4 separate regions of the Homo sapiens genome follow, and all the other regions are linked to region 1. Evidence: fine-mapped expression QTL. A gene starts in region 1. Each other region holds a variant in brackets. All regions are shown on one strand. Distances are between the middles of the regions.

Region 1 (5,274 bases):
TATTCTGTAGGTTGTTTAAGGACAACATCATTCTTTTCCAGCTTCTTGTCGATTGGAGTCTCTTCTGTGTATGACCTAAGATTTTAGGCAAGTTTCATTTAAAGGTTACCTGGATTGAAACTGAGGCACTGGCCCTGTGTAAAGTAAAAATAGAGGAAAAGAAAAGTAAGCATGTAGCATTTTTCTTCATATCCTATTTTAAAATTTAAATTATATATTATGTTACTGATATTTACCAAATAATAGAATATTATTACAATCAACGATCTGCCTCCCATTCTTACCAGTGTGCTCATATACTAAATAATTTTGGATTGTGAGTGTAGGAAATATTGACTTAAAAAATACATCAGTAGAAAATTTCTAACATGGAATTTATTATTAAAAATACTAAAATAGGCCAGGCATGGTGGCTCACACCTGTAATCCCAGCACTTTGGGAGGCCAAGGCGGGTGGATCACCTGAGGTTCAGGAGTTAGAGACCAGCCTGACCAATATGGTGAAATCCCATCCCTACTAAAAATACAAAAATTAGCCAGACGTAGTGGCATGCACCTGTAGTCCCAGCTACTCAGGAGGCTGAGACAGGAGAATTGCTTGAACCTGGGAGACGGAGGTTGAAGTGAGCCGAGATTGTGCCACTGCACTCCAGCCTGGGCAACAGAACGAGACTCCATCTCAAAAAAAAAAAAAAATTTAATTAATTAATGGTAAATACTAATCAAACAGTCCCGTACAATTACCAGAGGTATTCATTTAGATTTTCATTTCCATAAAATGAGAATTACAGTATTCACATCATTGGTTTGTTCTGAGGATTGAGTTAATAAAACAGCGAAAGAGTAAGCGCTATGTTAGCTATTATTATTGTGAATAGAAAGAATTGCTCTTCCTCCTCCAATTTAAACAAATCAAAGTAGGGAAAAATCCAATACTTTTAATACTATTAAGATACGGTTTTCTCTGTTGCTTAAAAAAATAATAATCACAGGGCAGGGGAGTGTTGGAAAGCATCAGCCACATTTTTTAAGATAAAAGCACTCATGGACACTACACTACATTTAATAGCTCCAGGAAAAACTCGACTTTAAGCAGAACTAAAGGGGAAATGAAACCAGAGCTTCCTGTATTTTACTTCCAGCAATTCTGTCATTATACTGCACACCAACAATACACACCGATCAAATCTATCACTTTTTCTTTATTAAGAAAAAAAACTGTATCCCTCTTGGTTTACCACCTAAATATAGCCCCATGTCATTAACTTAATTCGTTAGTCAAAACCTCAAAACTCTGGCTCCGTGACTCAATTCAGGAAGTAAGAACAAGAGCAAAAAGAATGGATGCCGAGTTGCCATACACATGTATAATAACAAGCCAGTGACCCAATTTAAGCCATCTGCTTGCATTAAATCACGCAACCCCCGAAGTATCCCCAGGGACAGGTCCCGCCAGCATGAACACTTCGTATGCATCACAAGCAGCCATCACTTAAGTTTCACGTACGGTCAAAGGAAGTCACATGACTTGCGCTTTGCAATGTTTAACACTGCAGTCAAATGACTCGGCATCCTAAAGAGCGTGTTAGAGGCAGGGAACGCAATGGAGGTCACTCCACTGTCACTACAAATTCCGGGAAGGAAACTTCCCCAGATTCCTCCACTTGGAGGTGGCGCTCGGCCTCAGGCTAGGAGGGAACAGGTGAGAAAGCAGCCCAGGTGGGGTGGGTTTGCAGCGAGGAGACACCCCAGGGCAAACAGCCTGACCCCAGCCAGGGATGTCCAAGAAAGGCCGCGACTCCTGATAATCCCTTATGCCCCGGAGCGCCTCGCCTGCAGAGGCAGCGTCCCCGCCACCCAGCCCCGGCTCTGCCGCGGTGAGGACCGGCGGGTCGGGGTGGACTGGACACTGTCCCACCCATCAAATGGTGATTTAGGAGCCGTGACATCCGAATGCCATCCTCCACTGGCGAGACCCTCAGAGCAGCCACGCCTCTAGCGACTGCCCCGCCACCCGAGGCCGGGGGTCGCGCGACTCACCCAAAGACTGGTGTTTCAGGCGCTCCACGGAGCAGGTTGTTTGTCAGCAGCTAAGTGCCGTCAGGGTTCCCGGCTCTGGCGTCCGTGGGCGGCTACGGGAAGCGACAGGAGTCAGTCCTCGTTCACTTCCCGGCTCGCGCGCCTCACTGCTGTGGTCTCCCCACCCTCCCCGCGCCCCGCCTTCTGTGTCTGGGGCGTCCCTGGCGGCTCTGCTGGGTTTTGGACAGGGACCCGCCGCTGATCGCCACCCAGCTCGGCCTCCTGCACAGCCTCTGGAGCCTTGGACCGCGACTGGCTTGCTGTGGGACGAGCACAGAGGGATAAGGACAAAGAATGTGTCCTGGGTGGATCTGGCTGCCTTTGCCCGGAAGGCGGAGTGGGGTGGGAGGTGGTAGGAAAATGGGAAGGAAAGAAAAGAAAGGTGGGCCGACGTCCACCTGGCTGTTCCAGGCCTCCAGGTCTAGGAGGGAGGGCGCTCGGGGCTGGGACTTTTCAGGACCAGGGTGGTCACCGCACAGGCCCCGCCTGCCTGGACCAAGCGCTGGCCTTCCCGGGGCGCCCAGGTCCACGGGGTCAACGCCAGGGTTTTCTCAGCTTCCTCGTCTGCCTCGGATCCAAGTCCAGACAGTGCCAGAAGAGACTTGGAGGCGCTGCTTTTTGACAGTACACACCTCTGTATGCAGGTGAAACGGTGGGGGAAGGGTTCAGTACGCTGGACTGTGCCCAGCCCAAGCTCCCCATCCGTTAGTGATAACTTGGACTCGCAGCCACTCCGCGTCACTCGCCAGTTATCCTGCGTGTGGGTGTTTTCTCCAAATTGGACACTTAGGGAACAGTTTAAGCAGTATGGAGCACAATTCTGTGCCTATTAGATGCTCTTAAATACCCGACTTCTCAGGGCCCTACACTGACTGATAGTTTGACCTATTGGCTGTAAACACACCAGCCAGAAATACAAATAAAGTTAAACAAAGTCATGTCAGCCACTTGGAATGGCTGGCTGCTTACTGTTTATTTTCTGTTAGGGACCTCAAAGTTCTCATCTTCTCTACTTGGCTTTTATCCACATTTGTTTGGAAAGATATATTTTAGTGTCATTAACGTGGGCTTTCTCCTCCCTGGCTTTTGTTTTCATTATTTTTTGTTTTAATTGAGGAATTCATTACAAGTCCCATAACTGGGAACTCATGTTCTGATTCACTGTTGCTTTTCTCTCCTCCTTACCCATTTTCCAAGCCTGATGCACTTCTCAAGATCCAATCTGAATAGGTGAATTTACCCTTGACATACACTGCCTTGGATTTATAGCTGTCTTTTGGTATGTGTTGTGTGTTTTATCTATCCAACTCGACTGTAGTTTGAGAAAAGGAACTTGTCTTATACAGTCTCCAGTGCATAGTGTAATGCTTTGCATAAAATAGATATCAATGTTAGGTTGAAATGTTAGATTATTGATAAAGTCAGGAGCAATTGAATATCTTCACAATTCTGCCTGAGTCTCCCCCCAGCCCCGCCACTTTGAGACAGGGTTTCCCTCAAGTGATCCTCCCACCTCAGCCCCAGGAGTAGCTGGGACTATAGACGCACACCACTATGCCCAGCTAATTTAAAAATTTTTTTTTGTAGAGACAGGGTCCACTGTGTTGCCCAGGCTGGTCTCAAACTCCTGGGCTCACAATATCTTCCTGCCTTGGCCTCCCACAATGCTGAAATTACAGGCATGAGACACCAAGCTGGGCCCTGAGTCAACCTTGTACTTCTTTACAAAGCTAAAATAAGTTGAAATAAGTACACATAAATGCTGTGTTTCTTTTGTAAGTCATATTTAGGTGCAAACGGGGCTGAGTGAAAGGGCCAGAGAGCAGAGTTAACAAAGAAAATCTGGATTAAAATGTTCATAAATCCTAAGAACTTATTCCTAGAAATATCTCCCTCATTTGGCACTGTTGTTCAATTAGCCCAGTGTGTTATTTTAAATAAGCAAATATTCACTGAATGCCTATCATGGCCAGGCACAGCAGTAAAGAATACTAGCATGCAAAGGACCTCATGGGCCCTTCTAGATAGAGTCCCACATCTCTTACATTATTACTGCAGTATCCTAATCGGTCTCCCTATATTTGCCCTTGCCCCTCTGCAATGTAGTCTCAACACAACAGCCAGAGAAGTCATGACAAAACATAATTCAGATCATGTTAATCCCTTACTAAAACCTACTTTTTTTTTTTTTTGAGGCAGTCTCACTCTGTTGCCCAGGTTGGAGTGGAGTACAGTGTTACATTCTCAGCTCACTGCAGCCTCTGCCTACCGTGTTCAAGTGATTCATGTGCCTCAGCCTCCTGAGTAGCTGGGACTACAGGTGCGCGCCACCATGCCCAGCTAAGTTTTGTATTTTTAGTAGAGATGAGGTTTCACCATGTTGCCCAGGCTAGTCTTGAACTCCTGACCTCAAGTGATCCGCCCGCCTCGGCCTCCTGTAACCTGGGATTGCAGGTGTGAGCCACTGCATCCGGCCAACCGTCTACTAATTTTTGCTCATTCTTTGAGTAAAGATCCAGTTCTTACACGAGCACTTCCTGATCTGCCCGAATCCTCACACACTGTGATTTCATCTCCTACTACTTTCCTTCTCACTTTTTCTGCAGCAGCCACAGCGACTTTGCTATTCTCCTAGCAGGCCTGTCACACTCCCATCCTAAAATCTTTACTCAATATTTCCTTTTCCCTTTTCAAGTCTACTCAAATGTCAGTTCTCAGTGGGGCCCTTCCTGACCACCAATATTTAAAATTGCAAACACTCTCCCAAAACACACTCATACACACTCCCTAGCAACTCTTCCTTGCTTTATTTCTGGCTAACATTTGTCATGCTAATATACTATATAAGGTGCCTTTTTATTTTATGTTACTTCACCCATCATAAGACTATAAACTCCATGAGGGCAAGGAGTTTTGATTGTTCTTGTTTCGAGGAAGCTTATACTCTAGTTGAGGACACATACAGTGATGTGTTTTAGAGAAGATTAAATTGGGAGCACCTGAGTGGCAACCTTAGTTGGGTGACAAGGAAAGTCTCTCAGAGGAGTCAAAGTTTAAGCTGCTGGTGAGTGAAAGAAAGGAAACAGCCATATGAAGATGGTGGGGAAGAGCATTCCAGCCTTAGCGAGCAGCTGCTGCAAAGTCCCTGAGGGTCTTGAGAATGCATTAAATGTGTTCAGGAAACAAAGGCCACCA
Region 2 (5,000 bases), 220 kb before region 1:
CCCGATGCTCAAACAATTAGGCTGAGCCCTGCAGGTCTCTGAGGTGCCTTCTGAATCAAAGAAGGATTTCATAACATCCAGAGCAGCCTCATTTTTAAAGTGTCTAAAGTACTTCACTACATGCTACTTTTCTGAAAACTGAGACTCCACATACGGCATACTGTAACTTGCTTTCAGCTAAAGCAGGACTTTATAAGAGGACCTGATTCCCTAACTGTGCCAGATTAACAGAAAATGCAGGGCATCTTCCACGTTTTAGAGTCAACATGTGCAGAGAAGTTGTGTGCCTTTCCCAAAGTCACCTACCTAATGGAGAGAGAAGGAACTGCAGGTTCATGCTCTCAAATCCTCATTCAGGATTTAACACAGATCACCTCTTGCCTTTCTGGGCATATGAAAGCACAAGATTTCAAGCAACAGGATGATCCTGCGCTTGTTTCCCATGGCAGACAAGTGGGGGCAGAAGGGGAAGGCATCTCCGTAGCTTTAAGCCTTCCATAATTAGGTTCATTTTTCCCTCCTGTTCTAAAATGTTTTGTGCTGTCTCTGTTACATGTCTGGTCTTTCTCTTGACATCTCTTTCTTTAAGCAGATATGTCACAGCCATTTGGCATTTGGGAAGCTTGATATTGGGTTATCTCAAAAGTATCATCAGAGTCAAGCAGAAAAGACTCAGGGAACTGGTAAACTGCTGGTTTCTCTCACGTGGGAGATGTCTTCCATGGTTAAAGACAATTAGGGGCAGTTAAACACAAGATACCCACTGTGTCTTACACTTAGTCTTACACTTAAATAAGGCCAAATTCGTCCCAATTCTGTTTCCTATCAATGTACTCACTTCAACACTTGGTTCCATCTTCCCTTTGCACATCTCTGATTTCCCGACTCACTCACAGCTCAATTTACTCAGGTAGAAGGACTTTTGGAAACGTACTGTTACTACCAGATACAAAGTAGATTTATGCCGTAATCTCATCACCCCTGGATTTTTTAAAATTGAAAAATATACTTCGCTGCTGTCTGGATAAATTACAGCACAAAGCTCCCAACTTCCCATTTCCCTCTTTCTTCCACTTTTCATGTTTTCTTTAGAGGTTCCTTTCACTAGGCAACCTGTTTCATGCCACAGAGAAACACACAATGAATACCAGTGATTTAATTAAAGAGCTTCTATTAAAAGATTTCATGTCAACAAGTGGCTTCAATACTTCACCTCTAGGGCTTCTCTCCTCTTCTGAGTAAGCGTTCCCAGTCGGTCCCACTGGTCACAAATTTTCTGGCACCGATCATTGACATTCACAGCGTCGTGATAGTCCAGTTCACTATTAAAAGTGAAAATAAATAAAGATTAACTTTCCCAGATGATGAGAGAAAATGAACATGGGCTAAAAAAGAAAAATAACAGGGAAGTTTAAAAACAAAAACATCTGAAATGTATCCACATGGACATAGAGAGTGGGCTGATAGACAGTGGAGGCTCAGAAGGGTGAGGGGGTGGAAGGGTAGGTGGATGATGAAAAATTACTTAGTGTGATTTCATACAATGTATGTTATTTGGGTGATGTCTACCCTAAAAACCCTGACTTGGCCACATGTAGCAAAACTGCACTTGTGCCCCACCCCACCTACATTTATACACATAAAAGAAATAAAAAATAAAAATCTGATAGAGAACTGGGATGGTATTTCAGGGTTTTGTTAACTGTCATCACTGTAAACATCACTCCTCTCAGATAAATCACAAGAAGAATTCATAAAACTTTCGCTGGCCAACAGATTTCTAAACAGAGAGAACCGTTGTCTTCTTAATGCCGCAGGCTCAATTTATTTCCCCTTCCTTTTCTTGGAGAGGCCCCCAGAGAGCATTATTTCTAAGTGGCAATGTCCCTATGAGTGAAGGTCGGAAGACATCACTCTCTGACCTGGAGGACAGTCCTGTGGGCCAGGATGCAGCCACAGTGACTGGGGAGGGAAGAGTCAGCCTGCGCCACATTGTGTCCTTGGCTTCCCTAGAAGGGCACTTGGCCTCACCACTGGGTAGAGTATCAGGTCCAGAATGGCACCATGACTTTATCTAACATAGCGGGATTTCTGAAATGGGGCCGAACTGAGCCCTTCCACTTAGAGACAGAAAGGTTCTGACTCATCTAATGCCACTAGAGTGACAAGCAAGGGCAAAATGATTTCTCACTAAATCCTTACTTTTCCTTGCCAGATCCATCTATGCATTCTACCTGGGGTCTTTCTGTGCACACCACTGAAGCAATTTTTTTTTTTTTTT[TG/G]AGACAGGGTCTTGCTTTGTCATCCAAGCTGGAGTGCAGTGGGGGTGATCATACGTTATTACAGCCTCAGACTCTTAGGCTCAAGTGATCCTCCTGTCTTAGGCTCCCAAGTAGCTGGGACTACAGGCATGTGCCACTACACCCGGCTCTTTTCAAAAATTTTTTAGAGATGGAGTCTTGCTGTGTTGCCAGGCTGGTCTCGAACTCCTGGTCTCAAGCAGTCCTACCTCCTCAGCCTCCCAAAGTACAAGGATTACAGGTATAAGCCACTGCACCCAACCTAAAGCAAATTCTTAACTAGAAGCTTAACCCAGTACCTCCAGGGATAACAAGTTTGAATCCTGTACAAAACTTAATCACCTTTTTCATTCAGATATAAATCAAGAACCATGGAAGTTTAAAGACATCTTCAGGAGGCTGCTTCAAAAACAGTCCAGGATTAGACAACTTTGAAAAGTCCCCTCCTACCCTACCAAATCCATTTTCTTAAAGCTTAAGTTCGTTTTCTTTTTTTTTTTCTTTCTTTTTTTTTTTTTTTTTTGAGATGGAGTCTTGCTCTGTCGCCCAGGCTGGAGTGCAGTGGCCTGATCTCGGCTCACTGCAAGTTCCGCCTCCCGGGTTCACACCATTCTCCTGCCTCAGCCTCCTGAGTAGTTGGGACTACAGGTGCCCGCCACCATGCCTGGCTAATTTTTTTTTGTATTTTTAGTAGATACGGGGTTTCACCGTGTTAGCCAGGATGGTCTTGATCTCCTGACCTCGTGATCAGCCCACCTCAGCCTCCCAAAGTGCTGGGGTTACAGGCGTGAGCCACTGTGCCCAGCCAGAACGTGGCAGTTTTAAAACGTAATATATTGAAATAAATTTTTATTATTTAATTTTTGAAGTTACCATTATGTGACAGGCTCTAAACATTCTACAGATGTATCAGTGATTATAATGGTGGGGAAAGGAGTAGGAAATAAAATGTTGTCTTTATTACAAGGGAAAAGGACCTGAAGAAAGCTCAGAAACACGGCATGGAGGCTCTTCTCCCTGAGGGCAGCCGCACCCCAGGGCTCACACTACACAGAGCGGGAACTGAGAACATTCACTCCGTGCCAAATCCAGCCTAGGCTCAAATGTCGTGTCAGTTCTTCCCATAAAACCAAACGCATGAAAGTGAAACAGCACTTAGGGGATGATAAAGCAAAGTGGGGTCCTGACGTCTCTTCTGCACACGTGAGGCAGTGCCCACTTTTTTGTTTTATTTTGTTTTGTTTTTTGTTTTTTTGAGACGGAGTCCCGCTCTGTCGCCCAGGCTGGAGTGCAGTGGCGCGATCTCGGCTCACTGCAAGCTCCGCCTCCTGGGTTCACACCATTCTCCTGCCTCAGCCTCCCGAGCAGCTGGGACTACAGGCACCCGCCACCAGGCCCGGCTAATTTTTTGCATTTTTAGTAGAGACGGGGTTTCACCGTGTTAGCCAGGATGGTCTCGATCTCCTGACCTCATGATTCGCCCGCCTCAGCCTCCCAAAGTGCTGGGATTACAGGCGTGAGCCACCGCGCCCGGCCAGTGCCCTCTGTTTTGCTTGGTTTTATGTTGATTTCAGGACAGGCTATATTCTGCTTCTTGCACCTGGCCTGGGTGAGGCCGCCTTCCCATAGCTTTCTGGGCCCCAATATTCCAGACTTATTTCTCATCTTGCTGGAAGCGGAGCTGCCTGTGCTGAGGGCCGGGGTGCTGCTGGATGGTAGGACATAGGGATTCTACCACAATCTAAGAACCAAAATCTGTTTCTACATTTAAAGAAACAAGGAGAATCCCTGCACAGAGTGCCTCCAGCGTGGTTCCCTCTGCGTTTAGTCAGGAAAGGCAAGGCAGGCCTTTCTCTCCCCTCTCTGTGGAATCCCAGGGGCTCCCGGGAGGACGGAGGGCATCTGCACATACTTGAGCTCCTGCGCGATGGCTGCGATCTGCTCCACGCGGTCCTGGTGCGCTGCCAGGTCGCTCTCGAACGCCTCGTGCTTCCGCAGCAGAGCCCGCACCTCTGTCAGCGACGCCGACTCGTAATCCTTCTGCAGCAAGATCTGCTCTTTGCCTGCAAAGGTGGTAGCAAGAAAGTATGAATATGCTGAGGGCACAGCGGCTTCCTCATGCCAGCCACATTCTCAGGGAGCGGTGAGATTCCAAAGAACCAAGAGAAGGGGACAGAGAGGGGCAGGACTGAAGATGCAGGCCAGGGTTGTGATGGAATTCAGGCTGTTACCTGCTGAGGATGCCCCAGCCCCTTCTCAGTTTTGAAAGCTCGTGTCTCCAAATAAAGGGGAAAGGAGAGCATGCTGAGTGCGTTTTTAGAAAAAAACCAATTTGTAGTCTTCATCATTCTAAGTCACAAGTATCTGATTCCTGCATGATCCTCAGTTAAGTTACTAATTATTCACTCCCAAGAGCTACCAGGGATGCTTAGATAAAACCCCGGTGCTCCATTTGTCTATCCATGAGTCCTACCCCACCCTAGTTCCTTTTGTTTGAAAGCTATACTCTGTGTGCTTAAATGGAGCCTGTGCTTTGTTTTTCCTGATAATAAATATTAGAAATTTTCCTCTCTGACCCTCCACTTACATTTTCCCATATAAATATTTCTTAAATCCAGTAACTGCTGTGGTCACGAGTGGATCCACATTTATCCCCTGGCTAATGACCTTTAAGAATTCTATGAAATTGGAAGTGGAAAG
Region 3 (5,274 bases), 48 kb before region 1:
TGTTGTTTGATTTATTGGTGAACTGTAAAAACTCACATTGTGCTCAGACTGTCAGCAGTGTTTTTAAAGGGGTAAGCTGCAAACTTCTTGTAATTTTTTTTATTAATGTTTATAGTCTCTTCCAAGGGACACCATGTTTAAGAGTCCTGTATTTTATAGTGCTTGTAAGAGGTCAGATGTTACCATTAACAAAAATCATGGAAAAGTAAGTCAGAGAGAGGCATAAAATAAAAATTTTAAATCTTTACCATTATTTTATTTTATGAAGTATTTGTTGATAATTTTAACCAGATAGGATGTGTAGGAATATGTGTGTGTGTGATCTTTCTCATATTAGACGGAATCTACCTATTCCTTTATGCAAGGAATAGGAATGAGTCAATGGCTCAGTATTGAACTGGGTAACATTATTCTACTTAATTTAAATAGTTGTTTAATGACATATAATGGAATTGAAATTCTGCTTGTTGGTTTTATACGTATATTGAAACCTTGTTATTATCAGAATAGCCACCTGGTTATTCTCTTTTTTGAATATAGAATAATACAAAGTTCTAGTATCTAGATTCAGCAGTTCTCAGAATTTTAACATATTAATCTTTTTTCCTTCTTTTTCTTTGCTGAAATATTTTAAAGTAAATCTCATAATGTCATGCACTTTCATCCCTCTGTACTTCAGTGTGCATCTTTTGAAAAGTGGATATGACTACAATGCCATTAGAAGTAAAAAAAAAAATAATTCCTTGGTATTATCTAATACCTAGTTCATAATCATATTTCCATGGTTATCACAAAAGTATTTTTTATAGTTGTTTTCTTTGAATCAGAATCCAAAGATTTAGTTGTGATGTTAGAACCTTATAAAAAGAGATATCTGGATCCCACCCCATATCTAAAGAATCTCTGGGGCAGTAAATCTGTTTTTGTGCATGTGTGTATATGTCTTATTCCTTCCTAGCTGATTAGAATATACATATCTGATCCGGCACTTGGAAACAATCGGTATGGATGATTCTGTATTGCATTACTAGTTGTCCACTCTAAGGGATGAGCGTGAAATTGAGTGACTCTGGACTGGAGAAGTGATACTGTATCATAATCAAGACAAGTGCAGGGCTGTAACTTGAGACTCCCAAGACAAATTGTATAGAAAGCAAGTGCATGGTAGTAGGAGAGCTTGGTTAAAATGAAAATCTGAAGTTGAATTTATGTTGGCTAGAGCTTTTAGTGTATACTCTTCCCTACTTTGCTTTCTTCTCATTCTGGTTTTTCAAGAAGTCTGTAACAAGGTAGTAGCATCCAATGCTGGGGGGGGTTCAGATGCATATCCAGTAAGTCATTCTTCCCTCTTAATTGAATAAATCCTTCCTAGGGGTTAACATTTATTGCTCTAATTTTATCCCAATGGATTATATCATCAACTCTTCTTCCTTCAATATTTCAGATTTCCGTTAATGCTGAACAAGTCCGAATAGAACTGGAGCCACCAGATAAAGCTAAACCCTTGGGCACAGTTCAGCAAAAAAGAAGGCAAAAAATGCAGCAGAAGTAAGAGCTACAAATGCATTGAGCACATGCTGTTGTTCCCTGACTCTGAATGTTATGAAACCATTGGAACTTTTTGATACTCATCAATTTGCTATAATCAGGCACAATGGTTTTTACTTAGCACATGATAGAGTTTGCTTTTCCAACGTTTTGTCTTCTCCATTTTCCAGAAAATCACAAGATCTAGAATCTGTTCAGGAAGTTGGAGGTTCTTACTGGCAAAGAGTAACTCTCATCCTGGAATTACTGCAGCACAAAAAGAAGCTCAGAAGTCCTCAGATATTGGTGCCAACTCTTTTTAACTTGCTATCAAGGTAATGACACTTGGCTTTGATCTGTGAGAGAATAGGACTCTAATTCTTGCCCATCTTATCTAACATTCTCTTTTCAACATACTCTTCTCTTGTTTAGATAGTCTGTAAAATAAAGCAAGTACTATAGGTGAAATTAAAAGATTGGTTTTAGGTATCCATTGCTGGTGCCCCAAACTGACCTTAGTGTCCTGTGTCATGTAGTAAATGGCCACTCACTGTACAGCCTACTTTCCTCTGAACTTTTCAGTAGCGTGCCTGGGACGTCATTACTTGCATTTCAAGATATAGTGTTGAATTTATATAGATATAGATATGTGTGTATATAGTGTTTGCTATCTAAATATATTTTCATATATATAGATGTATATATTCTATATACGTAGATTTGTGTATGTGTGTGTGTAAATTGAGTATGAATTGTAGCGTGTGCTTTCATGTGAAAGGCAAAGTAATTCTGAAGGTTGTCCTGTAAGATTCCAGATAGGCTAATGGAAAGTGCAATAGAGAGGACGTGGAATTTGACATAGCGCCTGTCTATATGAGAGAAAATTAGAGTTAGAAATCTTATATCTTATTTCTAGACTTGATGTTTAATGATAGTATTTTAGTTATTCCTTATTGAATGAGTTC[CTTATTGAATGAGTTCT/T]GGACAATGGCCATTAATGTAACAATGAATTGTACAACTTTTACATTTCCCATCATTTCTCTTTTGGGTGTCCTGAAGATGTTTAGAACCCTTGCCACAAGAGCAGGGAAATATGGAATACACCAAACAATTAATTCTTAGTTGTCTGCTCAACATCTGCCAAAAACTATCTCCAGATGGTGGCAAAATACCCAAAGGTAGGTACTTTTTGGAAGGAAAGGTTAGAAAAATTATCTACTTTGAGCGTGAGTGTACCTGCCACTTAGGGTTTTTGTCTTTCTCACCATTGTAGATATTTTAGATGAGGAGAAGTTCAACGTGGAGTTGATAGTTCAGTGCATCCGCCTTTCGGAGATGCCGCAGACCCATCACCATGCCCTTTTACTTTTGGGCACTGTTGCTGGAATATTTCCGGTAAGCGTTAATGATATAAGATTTTAGCAGATATTTCAGATATTTTTCTTCCACAGAAATGCACTGGCACCTGTTGATTTTAAATTTAATCAATTAGGCTTTGGAATCTTCCAGCACTGGTGAGACTCTCAGCCCTGCCTCTTCATAGCTGGGACTGTATAAGCCAGTTGATCTTGCTAAGCTTTGGTTTCCCTTTTTATCAAGTGGGAATAATAACCTTCTTCACTGGATTGTTGGGGGAATTCAGTTGGATAATTTGTGGTTAGTACTTAGCATAATACCTGGCACACTATCTATCTAATAAAACAGTAGGTATTGGTGTTAATTGGGAAAAGTTAATATCTCATTTATCCTCAAGTAATCCTCAAAGTAACCTTTAACCAGTGACTTCAGAAAATTAATTTGATCATAAACTATGTCATTTAAAGAAATCATGTCCCTTTTATGAAAAATATCATTTAAACATTTGTAAAGAGATTGAAGCTATTTTCATATTGAGGATTTGAGTCAGAGCTCCTTAACCTGGGGTTCTCCATGAGCTTTAGGGGATCTTAATCTACTGAAATCATATGCAAAGTTTTATCTGTATGGGATTTCTTTTTTTCTTGTAAGAGAGTCTGTGCTTCTCAAAGGGGTTGATAATCCAGAAACAGTTAAGAATCATTAATATTTTTTCTGTTTTTATTGAAATATAGTTCAGATGCCATAAAATTCACCCATTTAAAGTATACAATTAAGTGATTTTAGTATATTCACGAAGTTTCTGTAATCACCACCACGATCTACTTGAAGAGTATTTTCATCACCCCAGAAAAGAAACCCTACACCCATTAACTGTCACTCTTCCTCTCCCTCCTCCCTGCCGCTGCCACCGTCACCACCAGCACCACCACCACCACCATGACCACCACCCTGCTCCTGGCCACTAGTAATCCATTTTCTGTCTCTCTCAATCTGCCTATGCTGGACATGTCATATAAATTGAGTCATACAATATGTGGCCCTCTGTGTCTGGTTTCTTTTGCTTAGCATAATGTTTTTGTTTGTTTGTTTGTTTGTTTTGAGACGGAGTCTCGCTCTGTTGCCGAGGCTGGAGTGCAGTGGCGCGATCTCAGCTCACTGCAAGCTCTGCCTCTTGGGTTCATGCCATTCTCCTGCCTCCGCCTCCCGAGTAGCTAGGACTACAGGCACCCGCCACCACGCCCGGCTAATTTTTTTGTATTTTTAGTAGAGACGGGGTTTCACCGTGTTAGCCAGGATGGTCTCGATCTCCTGATGTCATGATCCGCCCGCCTCGGCCTCCCAAAGTGCTGGAACTACAGGCGTGAGCCACCGTGCCCGGCTGCTTAGCATAATGTTTTTGAGGTTCATTCTTGTTGAAGCTTGAATCCGTATTCCTTTTATGACTGAATAATATTGTTGTATGTGTATGCCACATTTTGTTTATCTGTTCATCGGTTGATGGACATTTGGGTTGTTTCAACTGTGGGGCTATTATAAATTATGTTGCTATGAATATTGTAGACATGGTTTTGTGTGGACATGTTTTCATATCTCCTGGGTATATATACCTAGGAGTGGAATTGTTGGGTCACACGGAATTTTATGTTTAGCTTTGGAGTAACTTGCAAGACTATTTTCCATAGTGGCCACACCATTTTGCTTCCACCAGCAGCCTGTAAAGTTCCCAATTTCTTCACATCCTTGCCAGTACTTGTTACTGTCTTTTTTATCGCCATTCTAGTGGGTGTGAAGTAGTATTTGTGCTTATATTCTTTTCGTATGAATTTTTTCTTTGAAGAAATGTCTTTTCAAATCCTTTGCCTGTTTTTTAATCAGGTTATTTCTCTTTTTATTGGTGAGTTGTAATGAATTGTTGAAATGGAAAATGTTAGCCTGAGCAGGAATATCACTTGTGGCCAGGAGTTCAAGACCAGCCTGGGAGTTCAAGACCAGCCTGGGTAACATAGTGAGACCCCACCCTTACAAAACAGAAAAGGAAAAAAAATTAGCTGGGCAGGGTAGCATGCACCTGTAGTCCTAGCTACTCAGGAGGCTGAGGTGGAAGGATTGCTTGAGCTTAGGAGTCCAAGGTTTCAGTGAACTGTGATCACACAACTGCACTGCATCCCAGCCTGAATGACGGAGCGAGACGCTATCTCTTGAAAAAAAAATTAGTAGAAATTAACAGAAATAAAAAATGTTGATAGTTGTGTTTTCTTTCAGGATAAAGTTTTACACAATATCATGTCTATTTTTACATTTATGGGAGCCAATGTCATGCGCCTAGATGATACTTACAGTTTTCAAGTTATTAACAAGACAGTGAAAATGGTTATTCCCGCACTTATT
Region 4 (5,274 bases), 100 kb before region 1:
TTCAAGGAGGGGGAAACTAGACTCCATCTCCTGGAGTATGCACAGATAGGAGAAATTGTCAGCAGTCATATTTGTGGGACAAACTACTCTGTCGGGTCCAGCCCACTCTCTGCATCTCTTCTCTCTCCTCGCGTGATGCAGATTTGTCCTACAGAATTTTGAACATTTCTAGCCCAGGACTCAGGAAGTCACTTGAGTGCCTTTTAATATGTGTTCAGCTCTGACTTTGACCCCTGGTTCACATTAGCGGGTTTCTATATTGTTCCTGAGACCCAAAGCTTGAACTCTATACTGCAGGGGCAGTAACTAAATCTCCTTCTTGCACCTGCTGAGGTAAAATGACTATTATTATTAATAGCAAATATTTGTTAAACTTGTTCTCTGTACCAAGCAAACCTGGAGAGTTTCATATTACCTTCATTTTGCAAATGAGAAAACTGAGATCCAGAGAGGTTGGTTAGGTGGCTCATGGTAGTAAGTGGCAGACTGAGCCCGACCAGCTCAGATGGTCTGGGCTAAAACCTGTCTATGTAACTCCCAAACTCTTCCTGGGTTGTGGTATTGCATAACTCTCATCAGTCTCCCTTACCTGAAGTGGCTTCTAACTCCTGACCCCTGCTTGGATTTTGGGTCATGCTACATGCCAAGATGCTTCGTACTGCTGATCCCATGACTTCTTGCCTTTTAAAAAAATTAAGTGCATATTCTACTATAATACAGCATACATACAGAAAAGTATATATAGTTTATAGCCTGATGGTTTTCACAAAATGAACATACCTGTGTATTTACTGCCCAAATCAAGAAACAGAACATTCCCGTGACCCCAGAAACCCTTATGCCTCCTCCCAGTAACTACCTATCTCTGCTGCACAAATTATTCCCTTCATTATAGATTAATTCTTACTGGGTTTGAATTTTATATAGATAGAATCGTGCTATTTGTATTCCTTTGCATCTGACATCTATTGCTTGATATTAGGCTTGTAAGAGTCTGTCATATTGCTGTGCGTTGCAATGGTTTGTTTGTTCTCATTGCTGAATAGTATTCCACTGTATGACAGTTTCACAATGTATATGTTTATTCTTCTGTTGATAAACATCTGCATCGGAAGCAGATTATGCTATTACAAAATATGCTGCTATGGACATTCTCAAACATGCCTTTCGGTGTTCGTACGCACACATTTCTCAACATTTCTGTTGAGTATATAGCATACCTGAGAGTTTCAGTAATGAGAAAACAATAATTTTACAGAATATTTGTACCAATTTGTACTTCCACCAGCAGTATAACAAAATGTCAGTTGTTCCACATCTTTACCAACATTTGGTATTGCCTGTCTTTTTAATATTAGCCATTCTGGTGGGTGTGTAGTGAAATCTCACTGTGGCTTTCATTTGACTGGTTACAAATGCTGTGGAGAACATACTTATATGTTTATTAGACACATTCAGATATTGTCTCTTTAAAAGTGCTTGTTCAAGTCTTTTGTTATTTTTTTCTATTGAATGTCTATTTTTTCTTTTTGATTTGAAGCAGTTCCTTAAATATTCTGCATATGAGTCATTTGTCAGATACATATGAATTACAAATATTTTCTCTGTTTTGCAGTTACTATTGCACTAATGATGTTTTTGGTAAACAGCCCATCACTACTCCTACATTGCCAGTTGCTAGACTCTGCTTCCCAATAGGGTCTCCCCATTTCCTCTGGGCCCTCTCTAATGCTGACTGCTGCCTGTAATCTTGCCTTCAGGGCAATGTCCCCTGCCGGCTGCACTGAACACCTTTAGAATCCAGTGCACCTGCTCCTGTCCTTCCAGGGCTGGTCCTGTCCTAGTGGGCAGATCTGGTTCCAGGTTCTGGCACCTTCCAGTCTCCTCAGGCCTCCCTGCAGTTAACTAGCTGTGCCCAATCGTGTTCTGAAAATAAGTTCAGGATGTCCAAACAATTGACTTATAAATGAACTTTTGGAACCCATGACTTTTTACACCAGAGGAGTCCTACACATTCTATTTATTTCTGCCTTAGTCACCTAGGATCAAGTACCTCCTGTAGCCAAAGGGGACTGGGACATTAAAATCATGATTGTGAATCACCAAGACACCCGTGCAAATTAGTACTAGCCCATCAATCCACAGAAGAAAATATACCATGGGAAAATGAAATCCTTATGCCAAATCGAGACATTGAGAAATTCAGCAAATAATTATTGAGTGCCTGATATGTGTCAGTCACTGTTCTAAATATTGCAGAAGTAACAAAAAGGAAAAAACCCAGACACCAATCTATGCACACATGGCACTCATTTTAGATGGAGAAACAGGTAGTAAACAAGCTAAATAAATAACACAGTTAGTATGTTAGGTAATGAGTGCTAAGGGAAGGGATATAGGAGTGTCCGATGGTGGTAATGGGTTGTTAGTAATTTTAGAGGGACTTCCAGGTAAGAGTTCACCAAAAAGGTGATGTTTGAGCAAAGACTTGAAAAAAGGAGATAGCTATGACATTATCTCAGGGAAGAGCATCGAAGACAGAAGGAACAGTGAATTCAAAGGCCCTGAGGTGAAAACATGTCTAGTGTTTGGAAAAACAGCAAGCAGAACCAGGCACAGTGGCTCATGCCTGTAATCCCAGAACTTTGAGAGGCTAAGGCAGGTGGATCACTTGAGGTCAGGAGTTCGAGACCAGCCTGGCCAACATGGTGAAACCCCGTCTCTACTAAAAATATGAAAAAAATTTGCTGGGTGTGGTGGCACACACCAGTAATCCCAGCTACTCAGGTGGCTGAGGTATGAGAATCAGGTGGCATGAGGTATGAGAATGAGGTATGAGGTGTTGAATCCGGGAGGCAGAGGTTGCAGTGAACCGAGATTGCACTACTGCACTCTAGCCTAGGCAACAGAGTGAGACTCCATCTCAAAAAAAAAA[G/AAAAAAAAAG]GAAAGAAAGAAAAAGAAAATCAGCAAGCATCCAAGAGATGTAGATGGAATTATAGTTATAGCTGTTATAAGAAGAGCAGAAAGCAATAGGGGAAGAAGTCAAAGAGGTATAAAAGAGGTAAGGTCTTATAGGTCATTGACCTTCAATATGATGCAGAGAACATACTTACATGTTTATTAAACACATTCAGATATTGTCTTTTTAAAAGTGCTTGTTCAAGTCTTTTGCCCATTTTTTTCTATTGAATGTCTATCTTTTCTTTTTGATTTGAAGCAGTTCCTTAAATATTCTGCATATCAGTCATTTGTCAGATATACATGTCAGCTGTGCTAATTTGGTATCGTGGATCTCAGAGGCCAAGTTGCCATATGTGTAGAAAAGAAAGATGGCTGTCATTTGAGTTGTTAAGAACAGCATGCTGCAATACCAAAACATCAAGCTGTACATCTCAAATATGTATGATTTTCATATGTGAATCACATCTCAATAAAGCTGTTAGGAAAATAAAATTACCATTAAGTTTAAAAAAAAAAGAAAAAAAGAAAAAAACAACCACAGTCGGGGCAAGGGCCATGTTACTAGGGCCAGGGATTTGGCCAATGAAGCAGGAACATAGAGATCCTAGGTCCATAAGGAAAAGAAGATTCAAGGAAGGCCAGGACATGGGAGGGAATGAACAAACTCCAGTCCTAGAGGTTTAGCAGAGACTAGCTGGCTTCTTGCAGTGAATTAATAAATGAGAAAAAAATCTGAGATCACAATAAAAGATCTTTACTGGTGCAAGGGTCACTTCTCACCGCTGTTTGACTGCTTTGGGTCATTCTTTAGTACCTTAAGTTTTTTATATTTTGTGAAGATTTTACTATTTTTTATCTGCAAGAGAGTAAGTTCAATCAAGCTATTGCACCATTACTAAAAGTGAGGCTTCTTTGACTATTTTTTTTAAGAGTTGGGGTTTGCTCACTCACCCAGGCTGGAGTACAGTAGTGTGATTATAGCTTACTGCAGCTTCGAACTCTTGAGCTCCAGGGATCCTCCTGCCTTAGCCTCCTGAGTAGCTAGAACCACAGGCACACTCCACCACGTCTGGCTAATTTTTAAAAATTTTTGCAGAGACTGGGTCTTTCTATGTTGTCCAGGCTGGTCTTGAACTCCTGGCCTCTAGTGATCCTCCCACCTCAGCCCCCAAGTAGCTGATTACAGGCAAAAGCCACCATGCCTAGCTCACTTTTACTATTTTTTACAATTCAAGATGTTGTCTATCTTTTTCAGCTACTCTATCCTGATTAATAAATGTTCTGTTAGTTTTGACTTATATTCTTCTTTTTGACTGGTCGTTCTCCTTAAATAAGATGTATTTTTCTTTGTTGGCTCCCTGAAGGCTCTGGTCTTATATTGAATTACCCAAGTTGGCAGTACTTTTCATGTAATGAAAGCTAAAGCTGTCTCTACTCCTGTGGTTGGCAGTGTAGAAGCAGGCAAGTTAACAATTCCAGTAAGGATCATGGACAAAGTCTTCTGTTCTGTTTCTTCTTACTTTCCTTGTCACAGGATCAGTAAACACTCGAGGCATTGTTAAACTTTATATTAGTTTTTTCTTTTGCTGTGTAACAATATTATCACAAACTTGCTGGCTTAAAACAACATAAACTTATTATTTCACAGTTTCTGAGGTTCAGGATTCCAGACACAACTAGACTGAGTCCTCTGTCTTAGGGCCTCACAAAATTGTGATCAAGATGTCATCTGGGCTGCAGGCTTTTCTGAGACTCGACTGGGGAAGGATCTGCTTCCGAGCTCATGTGGTTGTTAGTAGCATTTGTTTCTTTGTGGACCATTGGACTAAAGGCCTCTGTTTCTTGCTGGGTATTAGCTGAAGGAGTTCCTTAGGTCCTTGCCATATTAATCTTTCCAGAATCATTTGTTTTCTCAAAGCCAGCAAAGTAGAGTCTCCTGGAAAGATTGATGTTACAATCATATGTAATGTAATCACTTACATGTAATCACACATATTCTGTCATGCAGGCTGTATTCTGTGGATTGAATCAAGTCGCAGGTCCCACCTACACTCAAGGGAAGGGATTAAATCCAGGAGGCAGGGATTACGGAGGTCATTTTTAGAATCAATATGCCACAGTCTGCCCTGATTCCCAGTGATTCATGCCTCTCCCACATGAAAATATATTCACCCCTCTTAAGGTTCCTAAGAGTCTCATCCCACTGCAATGTGTGCTTGAATTCAGAATTTCAAAATCTAAATAAGATCCAGGTGCAGGTGAGGCTCTTTAGATCTGGTTCCTCTCCATCTGTGAGTCTATAAAACTAGAAGTTGGGGGAA

Direction of the effects. Alleles are on the strand shown, and positions count from the first base shown. SD is a standard deviation of normalised expression in the study named. Not every link is listed here.
With allele G in place of AAAAAAAAAG in region 4, the expression in neutrophils of the gene that starts at base 2,120 in region 1 is higher (large effect, 0.82 SD a copy in BLUEPRINT).

Evidence for each region. PIP is the estimated chance that this variant, and not a neighbour inherited with it, causes the effect.
Region 2: its variant is the best candidate, but not a certain one, in a credible set for the expression of LGALS8 in whole blood (INTERVAL, PIP 0.79).
Region 3: its variant is the best candidate, but not a certain one, in a credible set for the expression of LGALS8 in lymphoblastoid cells (GEUVADIS, PIP 0.74).
Region 4: its variant is the best candidate, but not a certain one, in a credible set for the expression of LGALS8 in neutrophils (BLUEPRINT, PIP 0.62).

The regions. Positions count from the first base shown.
Region 1 is chr1:236,520,828-236,526,101 of GRCh38, reverse strand. It overlaps LGALS8 (galectin 8), which reads right to left and starts at 2,120. Exons shown (of 10, transcript NM_201544.4): 1 at 2,041-2,120; 2 at 1-134. The coding sequence starts at 31. It overlaps LGALS8-AS1 (LGALS8 antisense RNA 1), which reads left to right and starts at 1,594. Exons shown (of 1, transcript NR_034040.1): 1 at 1,594-3,033. RefSeq lists a silencer at 1,778-1,827.
Region 2 is chr1:236,743,989-236,748,988 of GRCh38, reverse strand. It overlaps ACTN2 (actinin alpha 2), which reads right to left. Exons shown (of 21, transcript NM_001103.4): 12 at 4,213-4,363; 13 at 1,214-1,322. Among named protein-coding and RNA genes, the nearest start is that of MTR, 49 kb to the left of the region's middle. The variant TG/G (reference allele first, on the strand shown) is at 2,282.
Region 3 is chr1:236,568,999-236,574,272 of GRCh38, reverse strand. It overlaps HEATR1 (HEAT repeat containing 1), which reads left to right. Exons shown (of 45, transcript NM_018072.6): 24 at 1-71; 25 at 1,445-1,548; 26 at 1,719-1,862; 27 at 2,587-2,705; 28 at 2,801-2,922; 29 at 5,149-5,274. Among named protein-coding and RNA genes, the nearest start is that of HEATR1, 33 kb to the left of the region's middle. The variant CTTATTGAATGAGTTCT/T (reference allele first, on the strand shown) is at 2,493.
Region 4 is chr1:236,624,564-236,629,837 of GRCh38, reverse strand. No RefSeq gene overlaps it. Among named protein-coding and RNA genes, the nearest start is that of HEATR1, 23 kb to the right of the region's middle. The variant G/AAAAAAAAAG (reference allele first, on the strand shown) is at 2,936.